Regions from separate parts of the Homo sapiens genome. Here region 1 is linked to region 2. The links come from fine-mapping of genetic effects on gene expression. A gene starts in region 2. The other region holds a variant in brackets. All regions are shown on one strand. Distances are between the middles of the regions.

Region 1 (11,229 bases), 160 kb before region 2:
CCTGGAGGCTCCTCTTTGTGCCAGGGGAGCTTCTTTCCTCCATAAAGGTGTTCGTAACACAAACATTTTCTGAACATTTCCTATCTGCCAGAAAGTATGACAGGCAATGGGAATTGGAGGAAAAACATTAAGATAAGCTCCTTATATAATGTGAAATGACAAAATGGTTATATATATATATTTACAAACTCATATCATAGAGAAAGAGCTGATCTCCTTGAATCAGAAGGAGATTCTAAAAACCTAGTAAAAAGTTTTGGCCAGGCATGGTGGCTCACGCCTGTAATCCCAGCACTTTGGGAGGCCGAGGCAGGCAGATCATTGAGGCCAGGAGTTTGAGACCTGCCTGGCCATGGTGAAACTCCATCTCTTCTAAAAATTCAAAAAATTAGCCAGGTGTGGTGGAGTGCACCTCTAATCCCAGCTACTCAGGAGGCTGAGGCACGAGAATCACTTGAACCCAGGAGGCAGACGTTGCAGTGAGTGAGAGCAGACCACTGCACTCCAGCCAGGATTACAGAGCGAGACTCTGTCTCAAAAAATAAATAAAATAAAATAAAATAGAAACCAAGTAAAAAAAATGTTAACAAAGCCCATGAATTATCAATTCACAGAAAAGGAAATAACTCACAAAAGGGTGCTCATTCTCACTCACTGGGTAAACATATGAAATAATTTTTCACTTATGATATTTGCAAAAATCAAAACTGCTTTGGCTTATAATACATGATTCTCATAGGAATGTAGGAAGGCAGTGACTCTCAGTCATTTGCTCATGTAACTTCCTGTATTTTTGATGTGCATTAGGTCAACCTCTGTTGGGGGCTCTATAGCAATATCTATCCAAACTACACACTTATCGATCCAAACTTCCACTTCTAGGAATTTATCTGATAGATAAGCTTGCATTTGTATGAGATGATCCATGTGAAAGGTTTCTGTTTTTCGTTGTGTGTGTGTCTTTTTTTTTTTTAGACAAAGTCTCACTCTATTGCCCAGGCTTGAGTGCAGTGGTGCAATCTCAGCTCGCTGCAGCCTCTGCCTCCCAGGTTCAAGTGATCCTCCTGCCTCAATCTCCCAAGTAGCTGAGATTACAAGCATGTGCCACCACACCCAGCTAATTTTTGTATTTTTAGTAGAGACAAGGTTTTACCATGTTGGCCAGGCTGGTCTCAAACTCCTGACCTCAAGTGATCCACCCGCCTCAGCCTCCTAAAGTGCTGGGATTACAGGCGTGAGCCACTGCAACCGGCCTGTAAAAGGTTTCTTATAGCACTGATTACTATTGCACAAGGTTAGAAACTGTGCAGATGTTCACTGCCAGGGAACTTCCATACAAGGGAATACTGCACAGTTTGTAAAAGGAAAAAGAAGCAATTCTCTCTATACTAATATGGAAAGATCTCCAAGATACACTTTACACAGAAAAAGCAAGATGCAGAGGGACGTGTATAGAATGCTATTTTTAGTTTAAACAAGAGGAAAAATAAGAATATATTTTAATTTACTTTTTTTTAGTTCTCAATTGGGTTAGTTTACATTTTTAAACTTCAACAAGCAATTTTGTAACACTTACTGTACATCAGGCACTTTATAAGTATTAATTCAATTCTTCTAACCTCAGGAAATAGGTATTATCATTACCCTCATTTTACATTAGTAGATTAGGCCACTACAAACAGAGAGGTTATGTAAGTAGTCCAACATCACACTGCTAGTCACATGGGGGAGCCAGCATTGAAACCCATACCCTCTGACTCCACAGGTTATGTTCCTAAGCATCATATTAAGTGGACTAAGAAGTTAATACATGGAGGGAGGGAGGACAGGGTGAATGAGAGAGTTGCGTGACTTTATGTGTATGTAGTTTTGAACGATGTAAATGTGTTACCTATTGAAAAAATATTTAGAAAAAATGTGTATGACTTTGCTCAAGTTACTTTCCATGTGAGAGGCAGACATCTCAAGATAAGTAATAGTAGTAGCTTGTAGTGAGGGTTTACCAAAGTCTTATCTATAGTCCTCTGAGACTTTAGGGAGAGAATCCTTATTTAACCTCATGAGATAGATTCCCCACCCCCGACCTGAGCTGAGCAGCTAAAGCTTGGGGTGCTGCAGGCTGGGGAGGCTGAGCGCACCAGCGCCCATGACCTACAGCTCTCCCCTTCGCAGACCCCTTCTTCAGGAGCGCCCAGCCCTGGATCGCAGCCCTGGCAGGGACCCTGCCTATCTTGCTGCTGCTTCTCGCCGGAGCCAGTTACTTCTTGTGGAGACAACAGAAGGAAATAACTGCTCTGTCCAGTGAGATAGAAAGTGAGCAAGAGATGAAAGAAATGGGATATGCTGCAACAGAGCGGGAAATAAGCCTAAGAGGTATCCAACGCAAGCAGAGAATCTAAGCTCTTGGCTTGCATGCCCCAGCCTGAAAACCTCACCTCTCTCCCCTACCCTGGCACTGCATCATGTTTAAGGTTTATTTCCCGAAACACCAACCTCACCCATAACAGTTCATCTTTTTTTTTTTTTTTTTTTTTTTTTGGTTATTTTCCAGAGAGCCTCCAGGAGGAACTCAGTAAGTTACCATTCCCCCAGAGATCCAGACATGTCTTCCTATCCTCGCTTTGAGCACCTTGATGACTCTTCCCTGTTCATTCCATTGCAGAGAGGAAAAAAATCCAGTACTTGACTCGTGAGTGGCTTTGACATTTTCTCTGAATTCAAATCTGTTACTCTCTCTCTGCTTCATTATTTTCCAGCCCATAAGTCATAGCCCAGGGTTGAAAAGTGGTCTTGGATCCCTTTACCCAGAAAAAGAAAACAAGTGTGGCTCTTTGGAGAAACCACCCAGTGCTTTTTCTCTCTAGAAAAAAAAAAAAAAAAAAAAGAGGTCTTCAATCTCTTTGTACTAGGGGCTACAGACCCTTAAGCTCTAAAAAGCACTGAGGAATATCCAGGGGTACACTTCAAAAGGAAGAGGGAAGAGAAGGATGAGGTGCATTTTCTATGGCAGGAAACTTACTTGTTGTTTCCCATAATCTAGAGGCTGTTGAAAGGAAAACAAGAATGGAAGATTTAAGAAATAAGAAAATCAGAAAAGAGAGAGGGAGGGAGAAAAGTGTGTCTAATAAAGAGGAGTAGCTACAGTGGCTCAGTTGGTACAGATAGATCATAACTGCTTTCAAAAACTAGTCCCTGAAATTGCTCATTAAATTTCCCAAATTCTTTTTAGAGCAAGGTACGAAATGATACAGATTGAGAAGGATGAATCTTGTACTCCTAGGCATACACATATAGACATGGTGACACCTATGCCCAGGTACACATTCAAAACAGATGAGCTGGACCCCATTGGGAAGGAACTCTCACAGTGCCTGCCCTGCCACTAGCGTTCAACCGATGTTCCCAGACTTGATATTAAGAAGAGGTGAAGAAAGAATTGTACCTGAAGATGGAGACCATGGGGAAGGGTGGGATGGTAAAAAAAAAAAAAAAAAAAAAAAAAAAAAAAAAAAAAAAGACTAGATGGATGCAAAAAGAAGGGGAAGGGGCCAACACAGAAAAGGCAGAGTTCTGGTGACACCTCTACCTTTCTTTCATTGTAGGTGGAGAGGAGTCTTCGTCCGATACCAATAAGTCAGCCTGATGCTCTGTAAGTTTGCTGGGTCACATGCCCTGAATATTTCAACTTTTTCTCCACTGTGACCCGTGGATGTTCTCAGCTGGATTAATTAGATCTAATCTAAAGACTCAATTTCTGTGTGGTGGGGGTTCACCTCCGCTTTTCTGGAGCCTCTGAGAAACTCCTGATCCTGCACACCCCCTTGTAAAGCCTGGCCATGCATCCTGCACCCCCCATGACACAGGGAGCCAAGCCTGACATTTTTGAGAAGGTGCCACCTCTGATCCATCAGAGCTGTAGAGGAGGGAAGCTGGACCCTGGAAGAGACTCTAAAGAAAAGGAGAGAAAACATGTAGTGAGAGGAGAATGGAGTGGGAAAAGTACAAAAATACTGACCTTTTTCTTATCTGTGTCTCCTTCCTTTCAGAATGGAAAAATGGCCCTCTTCAAGCCTGGTGAGTAAATCACTGCATGTTCCCTGGACCAACAACCTGAGGGACTATATTCCTTTTTCCTTTTTTCTTCTCCAACTCTTGTGATTTGGAGCAGAAAAGTTCCCTTGACTTCCTTCGTGGGTAGGAAGACGCATAAAGGGTGGAGGTGAAGGGAAGGAGACACACACTGAGTAATACTGCAGGGAGAGTGAGGATGGAAATGCCAAGGAGAGGAGGTGATGCCTGCCCAAAGAACTTTGTCCTTCCCAGGCTTCTCATGCCACCTACTGCCTGTATCTCCTCAAAGGATTTAATGCTTCCAAGCTTTGGCCTCCACATTTTTAGATGATGATTGCAATCTGTTTTTCATGGGGGTTGAGGTGAAGACTGAAGGAATAATGAACATGCTTGGCAGAAACCTAGCAAGAAATAGATGGTGAGCTCAAACTGGGTAGTTGGACAAGGTTTCCAGAAAGAAGGGTTAAGGGAAAGCAACAAGGAAAAGTGCAGTGCCCCCATGGTTCCCAACAGTGGGGAGCTGTCTCCACCCCTAGCCTGGGAGGGCTAAAAAGGGGAGGCAATTACTGGAACCCAGAGAAAGAGGTAGCTTAACGAGGGAGCTTCCTGAGAAGAGTCCTCGGGCCTTGTTAGAGCACCACCAGCTGCTGCTGGCAGGGAGGAAGCAGGAAATTAAACGGTGTGTATCTCCTTTCTTTCTCCTTCTAATCTTCTATCAGGGCCTCCCATTGGCCAAACACAGCAGCAAACCAGAGGACAAGGGAGCCCAGTGGCACTGTCCATAGAGGACAGATTCCTGGGGTCCAGAAGAGGGTGGAGAAAGCTGAAGGCTGGAGAGTGAATCTAGGGCATATAAGGCCCCACACAGAGCCCAGCACAGAGACGGCCTTGCAGCTATCAGGAAGATGAGGAGCTTCCTTCATGGCCTGCTGTGGGCTGAGTAAATAATATGATTGCCTTCTACAGCGCTAGAGATTCATATGTTTATCCCCATTTTTCAGGTGAGGAAATGCTTCAGATGAGGCTCCACCTTGTTAAATAAATTGGATGTATGGAAAAATAGACTGCAGAAAAGGGGAACTCATTTAGCTCACGAGTGGTCGAGTGAAGATTGAAAATTAACCTCTGAGGGCCAGCACAGCAGCTCATGCCTGTAATCCTAGCACTTTGGAAGGCTGAGGAGGGCGGATCACAAGGTCAGGAGATCAAGACCATCCTGGCTAACACGGTGAAACCCCGTCTCTACTAAAAATACAAAAAATAAAAAATTAGCCGGGCATGGTGACGGGCACCTGTAGTCCCAGCTACTCGGGAGGCTGAGGCAGGAGAATGGCATGAACCCGGAAGGCAGAGCTTGCAGTGAGCCGAGATCACGCCACTGCACTCCAGCCTGGGAGACAGAGCGAGACTCTGTCTCAAGAAAAAAAAAAAAAAAAAAAAAGAAAAGAAAATTAACCTCTGAGTATAAAGCATCAGTGGGCAGAATCAATGTGGGGAGGGAAACAACAAAAATGTAGAAAGAGGATCCTTGTTGCTTCTTGGGGCCGCATCAGGGTATTGGGTTAGGCAGATACTGACCTTACTTTCATTTCCCCTCTGGTCACTAGACCCCTGGGGCTTTCACCAATGACATTGATGAGAGAATCACATTCAGGGCAGGCTAGGGACACGGGGTTCTGGAAGGACCTCCTCAGCATGGCCCAAGCCTTGCATGCTGTGGCTCTTAAATCCAGGAAAAATGGCTGACCCCATGGACACCTCCTCAAACTCTCTGCAGCAGATGTAATTCTGTATCCAGACATGGCAAATGCCATCCTCCTTGTTTCTGAGGACCAGAGGAGTGTACAGCGTGCTGAGGAGCCCCATGACCTACCAGACAACCCTGAGAGATTTGAATGGCGTTACTGTGTGCTTGGCTGTGAAAGCTTCATGTCAGAGAGACACTACTGGGAGGTGGAAGTGGGGGACAGAAAAGAGTGGCATATTGGGGTATGTAGTAAGAACGTGGAGAGGAAAAAAGTTTGGGTCAAAATGACACCGGAGAACGGATACTGGACTATGGGCCTGACTGATGGGAATAAGTATCGGGCTCTCACTGAGCCCAGAACCAACCTGAAACTTCCTGAGCCTCCTAGGAAAGTGGGGGTCATCCTGGACTATGAGACTGGACATATCTCGTTCTACAATGCCACGGATGGATCTCATATCTACACATTTCTGCACGCCTCTTCCTCTGAGCCTCTGTATCCTGTATTCAGAATTTTGACCTTGGAGCCCACTGCCCTGACCGTTTGCCCAATACCAAAAGTAGAGAGTTCCCCCGATCCCGACCTAGTGCCTGATCATTCCCTGGAGATACCACTGACCCCAGGCTTAGCTAATGAAAGTGGGGAGCCTCAGGCTGAAGTAACATCTCTGCTTCTCCCTGCCCAGCCTGGAGCTAAGGGTCTCACCCTCCACAACAGCCAGTCAGAACCATAAAGCTACAGGCACACACTGAAGCACTTTACTGATATTCATTCAATTATTCCATAGGACAGTTGTTTGAGTTTGGTGCCACCTTATTGGCCCCTTTATACAGATAAGGAAACTGGGGTGTAGAAAAGTGTATTGACTTTACAAAGCAGACAGGAATAGTGAACAACAGAGCTGGGATCTGAACAACAATGACTAACATTAATGGAGAATTTAAAACGTTCTGAGTGCTGTGTTATGAGCTTTGGTGGGTGTCACTCCTTTAATCCTCACAACACCCTGTCAGGTAGTCTCATTTGGCAAGTATGGAAGCAGAGGCAGGGCAACATTAAGTAGCTTACATAACTCACACGGTAATTTGTGCAGTTGGGAGATGTTCAGCTTCAGTCCCTGGCCAATTGCCCGTTCTTTTCCAGCCTGATTTTTCCTGCATGGGAAGAGCCCACATGTAGCCCTGAGGTTCCCTTCCCAGGACAGCTCCAGGATCGAGATCACTGTGAGTGGTTGTGGAGTTAAGACCCCTATGGACTCCTTCCCAGCTGATTATCAGAGCCTTAGACCCAGCACTCCTTGGATTGGCTCTGCAGAGTGTCTTGGTTGAGAGAATAACGTTGCAGTTCCCACAGGGCATGTGACTTTGAAAGAGACTAGAGGCCACACTCAGTTAATAATGGGGCACAGATGTGTTCCCACCCAACAAATGTGATAAGTGATCGTGCAGCCAGAGCCAGCCTTCCTTCAGTCAAGGTTTCCAGGCAGAGCAAATACCCTAGAGATTCTCTGTAATATTGGTAATTTGGATGAAGGAAGCTAGAAGAATTACAGGGATGTTTTTAATCCCACTATGGACTCAGTCTCCTGGAAAAGGATCTGTCCACTCCTGGTCATTGGTGGATGTTAAACCCATATTCCTTTCAACTGCTGCCTGCTAGG[G/GA]AAAACTGCTCCTCATTATCATCACTATTATTGCTCACCACTGTATCCCCTCTACTGGGCAAGTGCTTGTCAAGTTCTAGTTGTTCAATAAATTTGTTAATAATGCTGACTCTTCAACTTGGTTTTTTCTAGACTGTGGTGTCTACTCAGCACAGTAGAGTAGTCTACATACCCACTGTACTCCCCACAGTTTCAGTTTGCCTCACTGCAGCATTTTCACAAAACCCTTATTGGATGCCTCTTCTATTGTTGCCATCTGAATTACCAGAAATTCATAGATTTAAAGCAACACAAATCTATTATCTCACTGTTCTGTAGGTGAGAAGTCCCACAGGGATCTCACCAGGCTATAATCAAGGTGTCTGCAGGCTGGATTCCTTTCTGGAGTCTCTAAGGAAGAATCTATTTCCTTGCTTATTCAGATCGTTGGCAGAATCAGTTCCCTTCATTTACAGGAATGAGGTCCCAGTTGTTTCCTGGTTTATAGCCAGGGACTGTACCCACTTCTAGAGGCTGCCACACTCTGACTCTTAGCTCCCTTCCTCCATCTTCAAAGCAGCAACAGTACATTGAGTCTCCTCTCCTAGTTCTTTTTCTCCATTGTATCATTCTGATTCTTTTACCTTCTCCTTTTTTTCCTTCCTTTTATTTATTTATTTATTTATTGTTGACAGGGATTCGCTCTGTCACCCAGGATGAAGTGCAGTGGCGTGATCTCGGCTCACTGCAAACTGTCCCCTGGGCTCAAGCAATCCACCCACTTCCGCTTCCCAAGTAGCTGAGACCACAGGCCCACATCACCATGCCCCGGTATTTTTTTTGTAGAGACAGGGTCTTGCCATGTTGCCCAGGCTGGTCTCAAACTCCTGAGCTCAAGAAATCTGTCCACCTTGGTCTCCCAAAGTGCTGGGATTATAGGCATGAGCCACGGCACTCAGTCTGCCTTTTACTTTTAAAGACTCCTGTGATTTGACTGAGTCCAACAGACAGTTTAGAATAATCTCTCTAATTTAAGGTCCATAATTTTAATTTTGTGTAACATCCATTTCGCCATGTTATACATTCTATTCATAAGTTTCTTAGTGGATATAACTCAAAGGGTGGGCGGGGGGGGGCACTACTCAGCTCACCACACTGATTTGGGAAGTGATCCCAGGAAACACAAGTGCAGAAATAAATTGAGAAATGAAAGAAAGCCAATTACATGAGAAATGAGATAAAGAGTTCATTCATGAGTCAGTTATCATGTGGAAAACTTGGCTTAATCCCTTTTACGACTCTCTAAGAAACCATATGAAATGTGTGATATAGCTCAGAATCTTCCTAAGGACTACAGGGCCTGCGACTTTATCTCCACTTCCCATCCTCCTTTGCTTGAATTGTTTGAAGATTGGCCTGGGAGTGTTAATTCTAATGTACTTTAAGATTGGGCTATGTAACTGCAGAAAAGCAACTATCATGGGTGTGATAAAGCTCACAGGCAAAGGAGAAGGGAGATACTCACTGGAGGTGGGAAGGTTGTCATCTTTGCAGAAAACTGTGCCTCAGCTATTGGCAAACTGTGATAGGCCAAGAGAATAAGGGATGGGGCATCAACAGCATCAGTTATAAGGGCTCACCTCTGAGAATATAGTGAATGCCTTTCAAGGTCTCTCTGCCCTCCCTGCACCACATTTATTTAGCATTAGTGACCTCTTGTCTTCCAATACATGCCCATATCACATGGCCCTGCAGCCTCACCACATGGACTGGGTCTAGGATGGACACTGACCCAGGCTAGGCCAGAGGACTAAGTGACATGTGGCTAGTTACTCCTGTAACAGATGTGCATGGGAGCTGTGGGAAGAAATGTTCCATTCATGCTGTGGACTAAAGGATGGTGGACTGCAGAGAAGACCAAAGCAGATGAGCAGAGAGAAGGCTCCAAATGGAGAGCTTAGGCAATTTTATCATGTTTGTTTCTTTTAGAAGCCCAATATCATTTCTTCTCTTTGAAAAAATTTGTTGTGTTGAGACAAGGTAAATGTACTAGTTAATATTGCGGCAGTTGTAAAATTTGGAAGCTTACATAAGCATTATAATATGCTCATTGATTCTGTGAGTCAGGAAACTAAAATTTGAACAGGACAAAGTAGAAATGGATTTTCTGTGTGCCAAGATGCCTGTGGATCCCCTCGGAGTACTCCATAGCTGGAGATGACACACCCATATTACTTTCAAAGATTGGAGTTTATTGCACAGCAACAGTGAATCATTGCTCACTCCGGGTCCCGGTTCTTCCAGGATTGGCAGGTACACCATGTCCATAAAGAATCTTTCTGAAGTGACCCTTCCTGTCTCTTTTTCCATCCCAGGACACAGTATGATTGGGTTAGATCATTACTATCTAACCTGGCACACCCCAGTAGAACCTGGTTTCTTGCTAAGCTACCCCATGGCCAAATGATCCTCTTCCTTCTCAGAACACACATGTTTCCCTCCTGCTCAGATGAACTTTGGCAGAGGTTGAGGCCTGGCTTAGCTGGATGCTTCTTGCACAAGCTGCTTCAAAGCCCTGGGTCTTATTTCTTCAAATAAAAATATAAAGTCAGGTCTCATCCTGGGTGGCCATGCTCTTAGACACTTGCATCCTTCTCTTCTGTCCTTTCCCAACAGCTGCCCAGTCCTGGTTGGAATATTCTAATACTGACATAATTACCCTCATTAGCCACTCAACCCAGGATCCAATTTTAATTATAATCCAGAAATATCAGGTGATGAGTGAGGCTTCTGTATGAGAATGGGACAGTTCAAGTGTCAATTCAATAGTAAAAACACTTCTTAGGCCTTTCTTTATCTTATTCTCATCAAAGAGCTTTCTCTGCAGAAGGGACCTACTGGTTCATCCTTCCTGGTCCTTGATCTTCTGATCTAGAGTGGCTTAATAGTGCTGCCACCTCTCTCTCGAACTCTGGTGCCGAATGATTCCAGGAACTGGGCCATCCTGTGGTGGGAATGACCTTACCCTGAGCATGTCACTCATGCATTGAACAACAGCTGAGAGCAGAGCTTAGAGTTGGGCCTTGTAAGGAGAGAAGAATCACATCCTGCAGAAGTCTGTCCTGAGGAACAGGTACTCCAGTCACAGCAAAGACACAGTTGATACCTGGATAACAATAATAGAAGACAGGACATGGGAACAGCAAAAGATATGGGTGTTAGAAGAGGCCGAGAGCACTTCAGGCAGGAGCATTCAGAGTTGTTCTTGGAGGAAGTAGGCACGAAGGCTGGGCAGGATTTCAAGGGGCAAAGATGGAGCAAGCAATTCAAGTGAAAGGCATGGCATGGGAAAGGGAGCGCTGGCCACAGGGAGTGCAACGTTGTGATGCAAGGCCACTGTGGAGCCATTGCTAGTGTATTAACTGCAAAGTTTTGAATTGAATCAGAAGGGAATTGGAGGCCTCTAGACTAAGCATTTATTTGTGTATATTTTATTATTTATTTATTTATTTTGAGGCAGGGTCTCACTTTGTCACCCAGGCTGGAGTGCAGTGGCATGATCTCAGCTCACCCTAACCTCCACCTCCCAGGTTCAAGCCATTCTCCTGCCTCAGCCTCCTGAGTAGCTGGGATTACAGGCATGTGCCACCACACCCAGCTAATTTTTTTTTTTTTTTTTTTTTTGGTAGAGACGGGGTTTCATCATGTTGGCCATGCTGGTCTTGAACTCCTGACTTCAAGTGATCTGCCTGCCTCCTCCTCCCAAAGTGT
Region 2 (11,518 bases):
TCTGAAAGAAAGCCAAATTTATCTTTGCTTCTTTTTCGTAAACAAGGAGGTTTCACACCGGACGCATATAAAACACTTTGATGGAGCCCCATAGGGGAAAATAACCTTTCACGCATACTTCAACTGTTCCGTGGGTACTTTGAATGCAGGAAAACTACAACAGGCCCCGCTGGGATTCGAACCCAGGATCTCCTGTTTACTAGACAGGCGCTTTAACCAGCTAAGCCACGGAGCCACCATGCCTGCGGTGGTACAAATGAGCATAGAAAAGAGATGATCTTTGCCTTTGTTCTGTGCATTGATACACTTTCTTGTTACTGAGGTTTGAAAGTAGCTACACGCTTCTTCAGACACTGAAGATTAACCTTGGCTTCGCCCCAAAAGACCTAAGAAACCGCTCAGCTGCAGGATAACGAGGTTTTTCGCGTGGGGGAGGTGGGGGGTGAGGGAAAGGCTGGCGATAGCCTGACCCCCGCCCCGGGGCGAACAGGAGAGTCCTCCGAGAAACTGCCTCAAATAGCAAGCAGCTCATCCTAACGTGGATAAAGTATGACCTCGGGCTTCAGGGAGAAGAGGGTAGGAGAGCGGGTAGCCAGCCACATTTACAGAACACTCCTCCGAGTCGTGTAATGCATTTACACCAGAACACTTACGGCACCAAGAACTGATCTAGCAGGAAGGAAGCTATTTGTTTCTTATTTCATGGCTTTTAAATTAAACTGGAATTAGATTAAAATTCCAGTCATTCCTTACCCCATTTCTTTCCGTTAAAACTGGGCTCCACCTACCTGCTTCTTGCTTATTAAAGATTAACTAATGGGGTTCCAGAGTTGCTTCTTAAAAATGCAAGATTTAAGAATTAACAACTTAATCTTGGAAAGAGATAAAGAAGTCCCCTTCCCGGTATAGCTACACAGAAAGAAAAGCTTTCTTGTCCTAATACTTGTCCAAAGGATCTGATTTGATGTGTCAAATCAGCATTATATATATGTGTGTGTGTGTGTGTGTGTGTATGTGTATATATATATTATATATATATAGAGAGAGAGAGAGAGAGAAAATTTCTATATTGTCATGGGGGCTTATGTGTTTCCAACTTATTCTGTTCTCTATTAAAAATAAATCTGATCTTGGGAGTATAATTTGAATAAAGGGGTTTAATGAAATTCTGAAGAGTATACAAATTGTTGGCACAGCTGTGAAAGTAACTTCCCAAATGAAACCTGTAATTATGTTTGGCTGTTTTACTTGAAATCTGTTGTCCTGGTGGTTATGCTGAAACAGACATTTCAGTATTCCTTAGCTGTATCAATATTTGAAGGATTTCTCTGTCACAGTCTAAGGCAGACATTGGCATGTACCTTTGCCTATGTATGCGATGGGGGGAACAGTAAAAGGTCACGCCGACTAGAGTTTTCATTTTTATAAAAAGATGCAAGTCGGCCGGGCGCAGTGGCTCACGCCTGTAATCCCAGCACTTTGGGAGGCCGAGGCGGGCGGATCACGAGGTCAGGAGATCGAGACCATCCTGGCTAACACGGTGAAACCCCATCTCTACTAAAAATACAAAAAAATTAGCCAGGTGTGGTGGTGGGCGCCTGTAGTCCCAGCTACTCGGGAGGCTGAGCCAGGCGAATGGCGTGAACCTGGGAGGCAGAGCTTGCAGTGAGCTGAGGTCGCGCCACTGCACTCCACCCCGGGCGACAGAGCGAGACTCCGTCTCAAAAAAAAAAAAAAAAAAAAGATGCCAGTCTATGAATTCAGCACTCACTTTGATTGAGACTCATGAAATAAGCACTTATTACTTTATTATTATAAGATTAGCCATCATATTATTAGTGTGCTTGGAGCCAATATAATCATCATAAATAGCACAGTCACACCTAATATGGCTTTAACCCAACTGTGGCAGGCCCCAGACAGCAGAGCCAATAGTATTTTATTTTGGTTTTTCCTTTGGCAGCTGACGAAGTTTGCACAGAATTTCTAGAATGTCAAAGGAATTGTTTAGCCAGAGATGAGCCTTGGAAGCAAATTGAGACTTTGAGCAATCATTTACAGAACTCTTGGTGTGAACCATATCTTCTATTCAGTTCCGACTGTGATTAGGAACCATGGAACCCTCACATTGGCTCCGCTCCACACGTCTGAAATTGGAGAGGATGCAGGTGGCTGTGTCACAGACTGCCGACAGTCATGTAAAACAATGTGAGAGTGGCAGATGGTGTAGTTTTCCATGTGCCTGGGAGTGAAACTAAAAAAAACTGCACTGAAACACAGAGAAGAGTCCACCACTGTCATAGTTGTATGTGTCAACTTAGGCTACCCAGTTATTCAATTAAACACTAACCTACATGTTTCTGTGAAGTTATCTTGTAAATGTGGTTAACAATCAGTTAACCTTAAAAAAAGATTCTCCCTTATGTAGATGGGCCTTATCCAATCAGTTAAAAGGCTTTGAGAGCAAAACAAAGGCCTCCCTAAGGAAGAAGAAATTCTGTTTCAAGACTTCAGCATCAGCTTCTGCCTGAGAGTTTCCAGCCTGCCCTACAACCCTACAGGTTTCAGACTTGCCAGTCCTCACCCTAGATATATATAGATATATATCTAGATTTATATATCTGGACTCTTTCTCCGATATATGCTGAAGAAAAGACTGGAAGTTGAAACTGGAACTGTCAGAAAAGATGTAGAAAGATTTCCAAGAGCAAAGCAAAAGCATTTCTTTTTTTTTTTTTTTGAGACAGAGTTTTGCTCTTATTGCCTGGGCTGGAGTGCAATGGGCGCGATCTCGGCTCACTGCAACCTCCGCCTCCCGGGTTCAAGTAATTCTCCTGCCTCAGCTTCCCGAGTAGCTGGGACCCACGTCCGGCTAATTTTTTGTATTTTTAGTAGAGACGGGGTTTTACCATGTTGGGCAGGCTGGTCTCGATTTCCTTACCTCGTGATCCGCCCACCTCGGCCTCCCAAAGCGCTGGGATTACAGGCGTGAGCCACCACGCCCAGCTGAAAGCATTTATTGTAGTGAATATGGCTAAGAAATTTGAGGCACCCAAGGGAGGTCTTCAAAGCCTGCAAAACACAGATAAATTTTTATAGACAAACACTAAGGAGACTGAATGTGGACAGAGCCTACAGCCAGCTGGGTTAAAGCTCATTTTTAAGGTGCTAGGTGGGACCTGTGACTTCCAGGGATGCTCTAGCCTGACCAGCATGGAGAAACCCCGTCTCTACTAAAAATACAAAATTAGCCGGGCGTGGTGGAGCATGCCTGTAATCCCAGCTACTTGAGAGGCTGAGGCAGGAGAATCGCTTGAACCCGGGAGGCAGAGGTTGCGGTGAGCCGAGATCGCGCCATTGCACTCCAGCCTGGGCAATAAGAGCAAAATTCTGTCTCCAAAAAAAAAAAAAAAAAAGTTTTGGTAACCTATTTTAACATAATTAGTTTTCTTTTGAAATCTTACATATTTATCTTTTCTTTCGTGTATTTAAAAGTATTATTCTGAGATAGAGTCCAGAATCACCAAGCTGCCCTTGGGGTCCATAGTACAAAACCTAACGAGAAGATCCCTATGCTATTGCCTAGGGAGTAATCCATAACCTAGGTCTACCTTAATATTTATGCAGAAAGAGCAGAATATTTTTTGTAACGGCTGTTGAAACCTTATGAACTGAAAACAAATATTTTCTAATCTCAAAGTGTATATTCTCAATATCAGGCAGTTTTACTTCTGTTTAGTAGACCTCATCTTATTTAAAATGCTCACCAGGCATGGGGATGATTTATTCTCAGAAATATGGACAAACTAAAACACACACATATGAGACGTTTGTTTGCTTTCAAAGTGAAAAAGTGAACATTCATATGAGTGTCCGGGTTGATGATGCTCCTTATAAAGCTGTCAAATTCTGAGATCAAGGCCCTGCAGTAGAAGCAGCATGCAGTGAGGAGGCCTAGCACAGTTTCGCTTAGTAAAATATTTGAAGAAAAAAAAAAAAAGACCCACAGAGAGACAAATGAAAACTCAGACCACGTCACCGTACAACGGCTTCCAGTTTCCTACAGAATACCAGCCAGAGTCCTTACAAGAGCCTGTAAAGCTGGCCAGAGTCCTTACAAGGGCCTATAAAGCTGGAGGTGGTCTCCCAGGATCTCCTATTCCTCTCCACTGAGCACCGGCCTCCTCAACATAACTCCCAAGCCTGCTTCCACCTCCAGGCCTTTTCCCTAGCGATTTTTCCCTGTTCCAGATCACTCATTTCCCCGATATCAGCATTTATCCCTCATTCATCACTTTCACTGCTGGCCTTTCCTATCCTCTTTCCCTGTTTTATTATTATTTTTCTCCAATCGCTTATCACTATTATTTTGTTTATTTAATGCTTTATTATCCGCTTCCGCCACTGCCATGTAATCTTGAGGGCAAGGGTCTCTCATGTTTTCTTCACCGTTATCTGCAGTGCCTTGAACACTAATACTGGTTGAATGAACGAACGCATTAATGGAGCGGTGATATTGGGGCAGAGAGGATGCAGGGCTTGCTTTTCACCGCCATTTTTCAGCCGGCAGAGACAGACCGAGAAAGGAATGAAGGCCACGGGGCGTGTGCAGAAGTAGCTACCAGAGAGTCCATGCGCTGCGAGCCTGGACCAGCGGGCAAACGCGGCTTACAGGCGTTCACCCAGATATTACGGGTACAACCTAGTTTCTTATGAAATACCTCGCCCCTAAGGTACGCGCAGGGCCAGTGGCGCAATGGATAACGCGTCTGACTACGGATCAGAAGATTCCAGGTTCGACTCCTGGCTGGCTCGGTGTAAGCAGGGTCGTTTTACAACTTTCTGACTCCGCAGGAGTAAGGAAATTCCTGCAAGATAAATTTGCCTGGAAGACTCAGAAGCAAGAGGGGCAGCTCCCGACAACATATGGGGTTATCATTTCTTTGCGGAGCATTCTGCCACTGACCACGTGGTAACGCCAACTACGCCAGAGAAACGCTCGCCCTACCCAAGTTGTGCCCAGCCTTGCCTGGCCATTTTGGCCGAAGAACGAAGGACCGTTCAGAGATTAAATTAAAGTCTCTATTGTGTTCTTCCCTATTCAGTCATTTGTAGAATAAATTCTATGGCTTCAGTTTGAACACTGGAGGGGCTGGGTCTGAGCTTTTCATTGGTTTTTCTGGTTTGAGAGGTCGGTACAGAGACGCACGCGCACATCAGCAAAACACGCACTTGGAACGAAGAAACACGGAACTAGGCAGGAAGAACTATTTACTCTGAAAAATAAGCCCTTAGTGGGTTTCCGTAGTGTAGTGGTTATCACGTTCGCCTCACACGCGAAAGGTCCCCGGTTCGAAACCGGGCGGAAACACGTTTTTTTTTCCTCATCTTACTACGAAATTCTTCCAGTGTGTATCTTTTAAAGACTTTTTCAGGCTGTCATAAATTTCCTGTCTTCTTGTCTTGCTAGATCGGGGCAGCAGTGCTTAGGGCGGGCCTCAGAGGCTCACACACGTATCGCCAGGGGGAGAACCAGCTCTCTCCGGCTTGGACTCGGGGCGGCTCCCCGCCTGCAGCCCCGGAAGCGCATCCTCACCTTCCCTCGCCTTCCTGTTCCTGGCGGAGCCGGGCTCCGCTCGTCTTCTCTGTCTTAGGGCTGGTGCTGGCCCTGCCCACGCCTAGGGCTCCGGCGCGTCACGGGCCTCAGCTGGGATTCCCGCGCCCCTCGGACGGCCACGAGACTCGGGTAAGTGCCTCACAGACTTTGTGCGCTACCCCGGAAAATGAGGGGCGTGGTGGGGGGGGTCCCGCCGCCCTCCGTATACTTAGGACCCTCCTGCCAGCTGGCCCCGGTCATGATTAGGGGCCTTGGGCCCCGTCAGCCCCGCCTGTCTTCCCGTCTCCAGAGTAATCGCAGCATCTCTCCTGAGCTCCGAGTGTGAATCCCTGGGAAAAGCTGAATCCAGAGGTGGGGTCACAGAGAGCCGCAGGCCCGACCGGGATGAGAAGTCCTAATCGGCGTTCTAGGGGCGTTCTAAAAGAAGGAAGGAAGGGGATTTGAAAGGATTGCTCCCGCAGGGCTGTGGCCTTAAAGAGGTGGTGACTGGCAGGTTGGACTGACCTGCCGTGGGCTCTCCCTTCCTCCCCAATTTACCTTCGAGAAACCCTCGTTGAGGAGACACCCAAGGGCTGAGTCCTCCTCCACTTTGACCTTTTGCTATTCCATCACAAAGAAAAAATGGATCCCAAAGTTAAGAAATGGACCAGCACTTGTTTAGAATCAGGACTGGTGCCTTGGTGTTTGGCCTCTTACCTCTGCCACATGGCTTGCTTACAAGTTAATCGGATTAATCAAACGCTTTTATGAGAAAGTTTTGTTGTGTCACCTGGCAGCCTCGGGTGTTCCCTAAGAGGGATTTCTTTCTTAGATGTATTACTACTTTTTCTAGGGATTAGCCAAGCCTAGCCTCTCAGATCATATTGCTCCAGGTTCCCTCAAATGACTAATAAGAATGTGATGTGTTTGTTTTTGTTTGTTTGTTTTTGAGACGGAGTCTCACTCTGTTGTCCAGGCTGGGGTGCAATGGTGCGATCTCGCTCACTGCAACCTCCACCTCGATTCTTGTGCCTCAGGCTCCCGAGCAGCTGGGACTACAGGTGTGTAACACTACACCCGGATAATTTTTGTATTTTTAGTTGGAGACGGAGTTTCACCATATTGGCCAGGCTGGTCTCAAACTCCTGACCTCAAGTGATCCGCCCGCCTCGGCCTCCCAAAGTGCTGAGATTACAGGCATGAGCCACCGCGCCCAACCGAATGTGATATTTTTATGACCATGAGAAAAGAAGGGCTGCATTCTTTGGTGGGTCCGCAAAATTAAAAAAAAAAAAAAAAAAAGAAAAGAAAAGAAAGAAAAGGACAATGTTAATGAGCTGTTTTCTTTTTATCATTTTCTTAAACAGGCTGCTTGGGTAGACGTTGACTTGAAAGGTCCATTCTTTTGTCATCTTGCTGGTTCCCTTAACAAGACAACACCTTGGCTAGCAAGATAATATCTTGGTTAGCAAGACAATAAACTTGGGCATGTGCTCAACAGCAACCTGTCTAATACATTTTCATTTAAAATCCCCTCTGTACTACTCAGAAATATAAGCAAGTTATTATGGTGCCCAGAAAGGGGGCAAAGGTTCCAGGGTCCTAGGAGATGACAAGGATTTATCCTCTTCATCTTTCTCCGATCCCAGTTAGCAGGAATACTTTAGCCTGGAAGGTGAGTGTGCCCCTAACCAACCTTTACAGATGGGTGACTGTTTGGGAGCTTATGGCTCACTCCTTCTCTTTAAAGCAGATGCATTCTGGCAAGCTGCAGCAGCAAACCTACCCTTTTAGACACCCTGCGTTTTCTCATCTTTCCTTTCTACCCCTGCATCTCCCAGTCTCTCTCACTTAACCTCCGTGGAAACTCATGCTGCGTCTCTAATACTTTGGAAGATGAAGAACAAACGCCCTGGAGAGTGACTGACACCATGTGACCTCTTGCTTCTGTAGCACACTGCATCTTGCCTGTGAATCTTTTTTTTTTTTTCTTTTTTTTTTGAGACCGGGTCTTGCTCTGTCACCCAGGCTGGAGTGCAGTGGCACAATCTTGGCTCACTGCAACCTCCGCCTCCCAGGCTCAAGTGATTCTCCTGCCTCAGCTTCCCAAGTAGTTGGGACTATAGGCATATGCCACCACACCCAGCTAATTTTTGTATTTTTAGTAGAAATGGGTTTCACCATGTTGGCCAGGCTGGTCTTGAACTCCTGACCTCAAGTGATCCACCTGCCTCCACCTCCCAAAGTGCTGGGATTACAGGCGTGAGCCACCACGCCCAGCATTTGCCTGTGCATTTTTTATTGTATTTTAATTATATCCTTTATTCTCTCCTTCCTAAGCTTGGTGTTCTTAACTTTCTTCCAGATCTTCCCTCCAACCCCCAAACACGATCTCTCCTTAAGTAAGAGGCAGGGAGGGAGAGGGGAACCTTCTGATTTCGGGGTGGGATTGAGGCTAAAACCCAAGTTAGAACTACCTCCCAGAAACCCAGTTCCGTATCCATCGAGTGATCAAAAAGATGCTGCTAAAATGTGCCTTGTGTTTGCTAGGGATGAGGTGAAAATGAGTATTGAATGAGGTGGCATTTTGGTCCATGGATTTGCTTGCTATGAAAGAGAAAAAACATGGAAAAATATATTTTGAGAGCTGGGTGAGACCCCCAAATTAATCTAATCCAAGATGTTTCCCTAGTCATTACATTCCTTTTTTTTTGAAACAGAATCTCACTCTATTGCCCAGGCTGGAGTGCAGTGGCGCAATCTCGGCTCACTGCAACCTCTGCCTCCCGGGTTCAAGCAATTCTCCTGCCTCAGCATCCTTAGTAGCTGGGATTACAGGCACGCACCACCACCCATGGCTAATTTTGTATTTTTAGTAGAGATAGGGTTTCACCATGTTGGCCAGGCTGGTCTCGAACTTCTGACCACCTTGGCCTCCCAAAGTTCTGGGATTACAGGCGTGAGCCACCACGCCCTGCCTGAGTCACTAAATTCTTACACTGTTCCCTCCTATGTTAGTCCGCTAGGGCTGCCGAAACAAGGTACCACAGGCTGAGTGACTTAAACAACAAAAATTAATTTTCTTTGACTTCTGGAGGATAGAAGTCCAAGATCAAGATGTCGGCAGGTTTGGTTTCTTCTGAGGCCTCTCCTTGGCTTGCAGATGGCCACCTCCCACTACATCCTTAGATGTGTTCCTCTATGTTGTCTGTATCCTAATCTCCTCTTCCTATAAGTACACCAGTAATATTGAATTAGGGCCCACCCATAATACCCTATTTTGCTTTTTATTTCACTATTAGTTTTTTTTTTAAAGCTATTTTTGCCAGTTAATTTAAACATCATGATCTTCTTCTAATGATAAAAATGCAAGTCTTCATGCTAACAAAAGGATTGGAAGAAGGATGAAGCAGATGTTTCTTCTCCCCTACAGCAATCTGGTTAAATGAGGAGTTAAATTGAGAGCTTTCATGAGAATTTCAGTCCAGTTCTGTGCAATGAAGACGAGTGATTCAAAACTTTCACTAACTTGCTCTGTTGTTTGTAATATAATGTTATTGGAAGAGTTATTTTAACAAAGGGGAACTGTTATATTTCTAAAACTTTTAAAATTGTTGCCATGTCTTGGGAAAATAACTTCAGTATCTGTCTTGATAATTTCTTGCCCTGATGATACCATTGAAAGTCATTTCTCTATGTTTCCAAAAGTTGTACAATTACTAGTAAGATTTATCTGCCAGTTAATAATTTTTCTTTTCTTCCACATGCATGAAGGAGTATTTGTAATGACTTTTATATTTTATCATTAACATTATTTTTTTGAACTCTTAAAATGCGTATTTTTTTTTTACATTAATAGACTTCCTTTTTTCAGAGCAATTTTTGGTTTACAGAAAATTGAGCAGAAGATACAGAGTTCCCACATACTTCCTTTCCCCCACCTCAGTTTCTCCTAAGTTATTAACAACTTACACTGGTGTGGTACATTTGTTACAAATGATGAACTAATATTGATAGCTTATTATTAACTAAAATATATAGTTTACATCAGGGTTCACTCACTGTATGAAGTTCTGTGGGTTTTGTCAAGTGCATAACATCTACCATTTTATAATATATGCCATTACAGTAGCATACAAAAGAGTTTCATTTACCTAAAAATCTCTTCTGCGCCACCTCAAATAATTTCTTCTGAGTTAAAACCACTGTGTGGTGAGAGCTCCTTCCTTTTCCAACCTCCTTGTCCTTTATGGAAATGGTAAGAGCTTTTACCCATCTCTCTGGTCCCTTTTCATTATGTGTGTATCTGTCTCCCACATTTGTAAGGTCTCTAGAGAGTCAGTGACCTGGTCTCCTAATCAGCTTCCTAAAGGTGAGTTTCAAGAATTAAATCCGTATTTATATACTCAGATACAGCATCCAGGCAGTGGCCTATTTTTCCTGATTTTATTTTGTCACCTGCTGTATTTTGGCCTTTGACATGTGGAGATCATGGCCCCCCTACTTCGGATGGACTTCAATGGATCTAACTCGAAGAAGACTGAACCCAGGAAAAGAGACTGTGTGAGCATTCTCACACCAGGAAATGGGCTGAGAAACAATTTTGGAGTGAGATGGAAGGAGAATGGTATGGAGTATCTATTCTTAGGGAAATGTGTGCTAGGCCAAAATCTCACTTTTTGGTTAAACACTCTCATTCTCTGATAACATAAAGGCCTCTAAAAATATATGCAGAATATTTGGGGTAACCTTATTATTCATTGCCCAAGTTAGGTCACCTTTCAAAGTAAAAGGGAACATTATGAATAATTATACTAGGGCAACAGGTATAAATCAAGTCACCCTACCATTAGACCAAGTGATTTTCACTGGTTCCTTCATTGTAAGAGTAACTCCTTTTGTTTCCTAAAAATTGTTAAAATGATTCCTTAATGTTGCATTTGAAATAAAGGGAAAAAGACAAAAATTAGCAATAAATTCATGTAATGTCTAGGCAAGGATTTCTTCAGAAGAGAGCAGGTCAGGTGTAGTTAGATCAGTAGAACTGTATGTCTCAGTGGCACCATTACCTTTTTTTTTTTTTTTTTTGAAGCAGAGTCTCACTCTGTCCCCCAGGCTGGAGTGCAGTGGCACAATCTCGGCTCACTGCAACCTCCGCCTCCCAGGTTCAAGCAATTCTCAGGTGGATCACCTGATGTCAGGAGTTCGAGACTAGCCTGGCCAACACGGTGAAACCCTGTCTCTAGTAAAAATACAAAAATTGGCTGGGTATGGTGGCGTGCGCCTGTAATCCCAGCTACCCAGGAGGCTGAGGCAGGAGAATTGCTTGAACCCGGGAGGCAGAGGTTGCAGTGAGCCGAGATCGCACCACTGCACTCCAGCCTGGGTGACAGAACGAGACTCTGAGACTCTATCTCAAAAAAAAAAAAAAAAAAAAAAAAAAACTGGAGCAATTTGGAGACAAGATTAAAAAAATAATAATAACATTGTAGAATGGTGGCCACTCACAAGGTTACAGAATTTCCCAGTAAATGTTTTCAAGGGTGGGGCAGAAGGTATGATAGACAAAAGCTTTAAAAAAGTCACACAGTGCCCATGAATGCCAGCCCTAGGCCTAAGTCCTAATTACTCAAACTCAAACTATTTTCCATTTCCTACCTGTGTGGCTCTCAATCTGTGCTCTGGGCTACCCACATTTTTTAGTACTTTTATTAATTCTTGAGCAGACACATACAATTTTTCTGTGTAAGACATAGGTAATACTCCAGCCATGTGCTTCCCCTACAGTTTAAAGAAGAGAATGCAACCTCCCCCATCTCTGGACTAACCTCCATGCCTTCTCCAACTACATCCCTTTCCCAACTCCCAAGAGATGACCACTGTCCAATTTTTATTTATCCCTTTTTTTTTAAGTTTTACTAT

What was found. PIP is the estimated chance that this variant, and not a neighbour inherited with it, causes the effect.
Region 1: its variant is fine-mapped to the expression of HMGN4 in whole blood (INTERVAL, PIP above 0.99).

The regions. Positions count from the first base shown.
Region 1 is chr6:26,370,725-26,381,953 of GRCh38, forward strand. It overlaps BTN3A2 (butyrophilin subfamily 3 member A2), which reads left to right. Exons shown (of 11, transcript NM_007047.5): 6 at 2,173-2,373; 7 at 2,552-2,572; 8 at 2,663-2,689; 9 at 3,603-3,649; 10 at 4,047-4,074; 11 at 5,073-7,588. The coding sequence ends at 3,643. Among named protein-coding and RNA genes, the nearest start is that of BTN2A2, 6.8 kb to the right of the region's middle. The variant G/GA (reference allele first, on the strand shown) is at 7,480.
Region 2 is chr6:26,532,756-26,544,273 of GRCh38, forward strand. HMGN4 (high mobility group nucleosomal binding domain 4) reads left to right here and starts at 5,611. Exons shown (of 2, transcript NM_006353.3): 1 at 5,611-5,746. TRR-ACG1-2 (tRNA-Arg (anticodon ACG) 1-2) reads left to right here and starts at 4,743; the gene lies at 4,743-4,815. TRV-CAC1-6 (tRNA-Val (anticodon CAC) 1-6) reads left to right here and starts at 5,299; the gene lies at 5,299-5,371. It overlaps TRT-AGT2-1 (tRNA-Thr (anticodon AGT) 2-1), which reads right to left and starts at 235; the gene lies at 162-235. RefSeq lists a cis regulatory region at 1-702, silencers at 118-207, 4,595-4,888, 5,282-5,331 and enhancers at 3,308-3,807, 3,897-4,561, 5,822-6,231.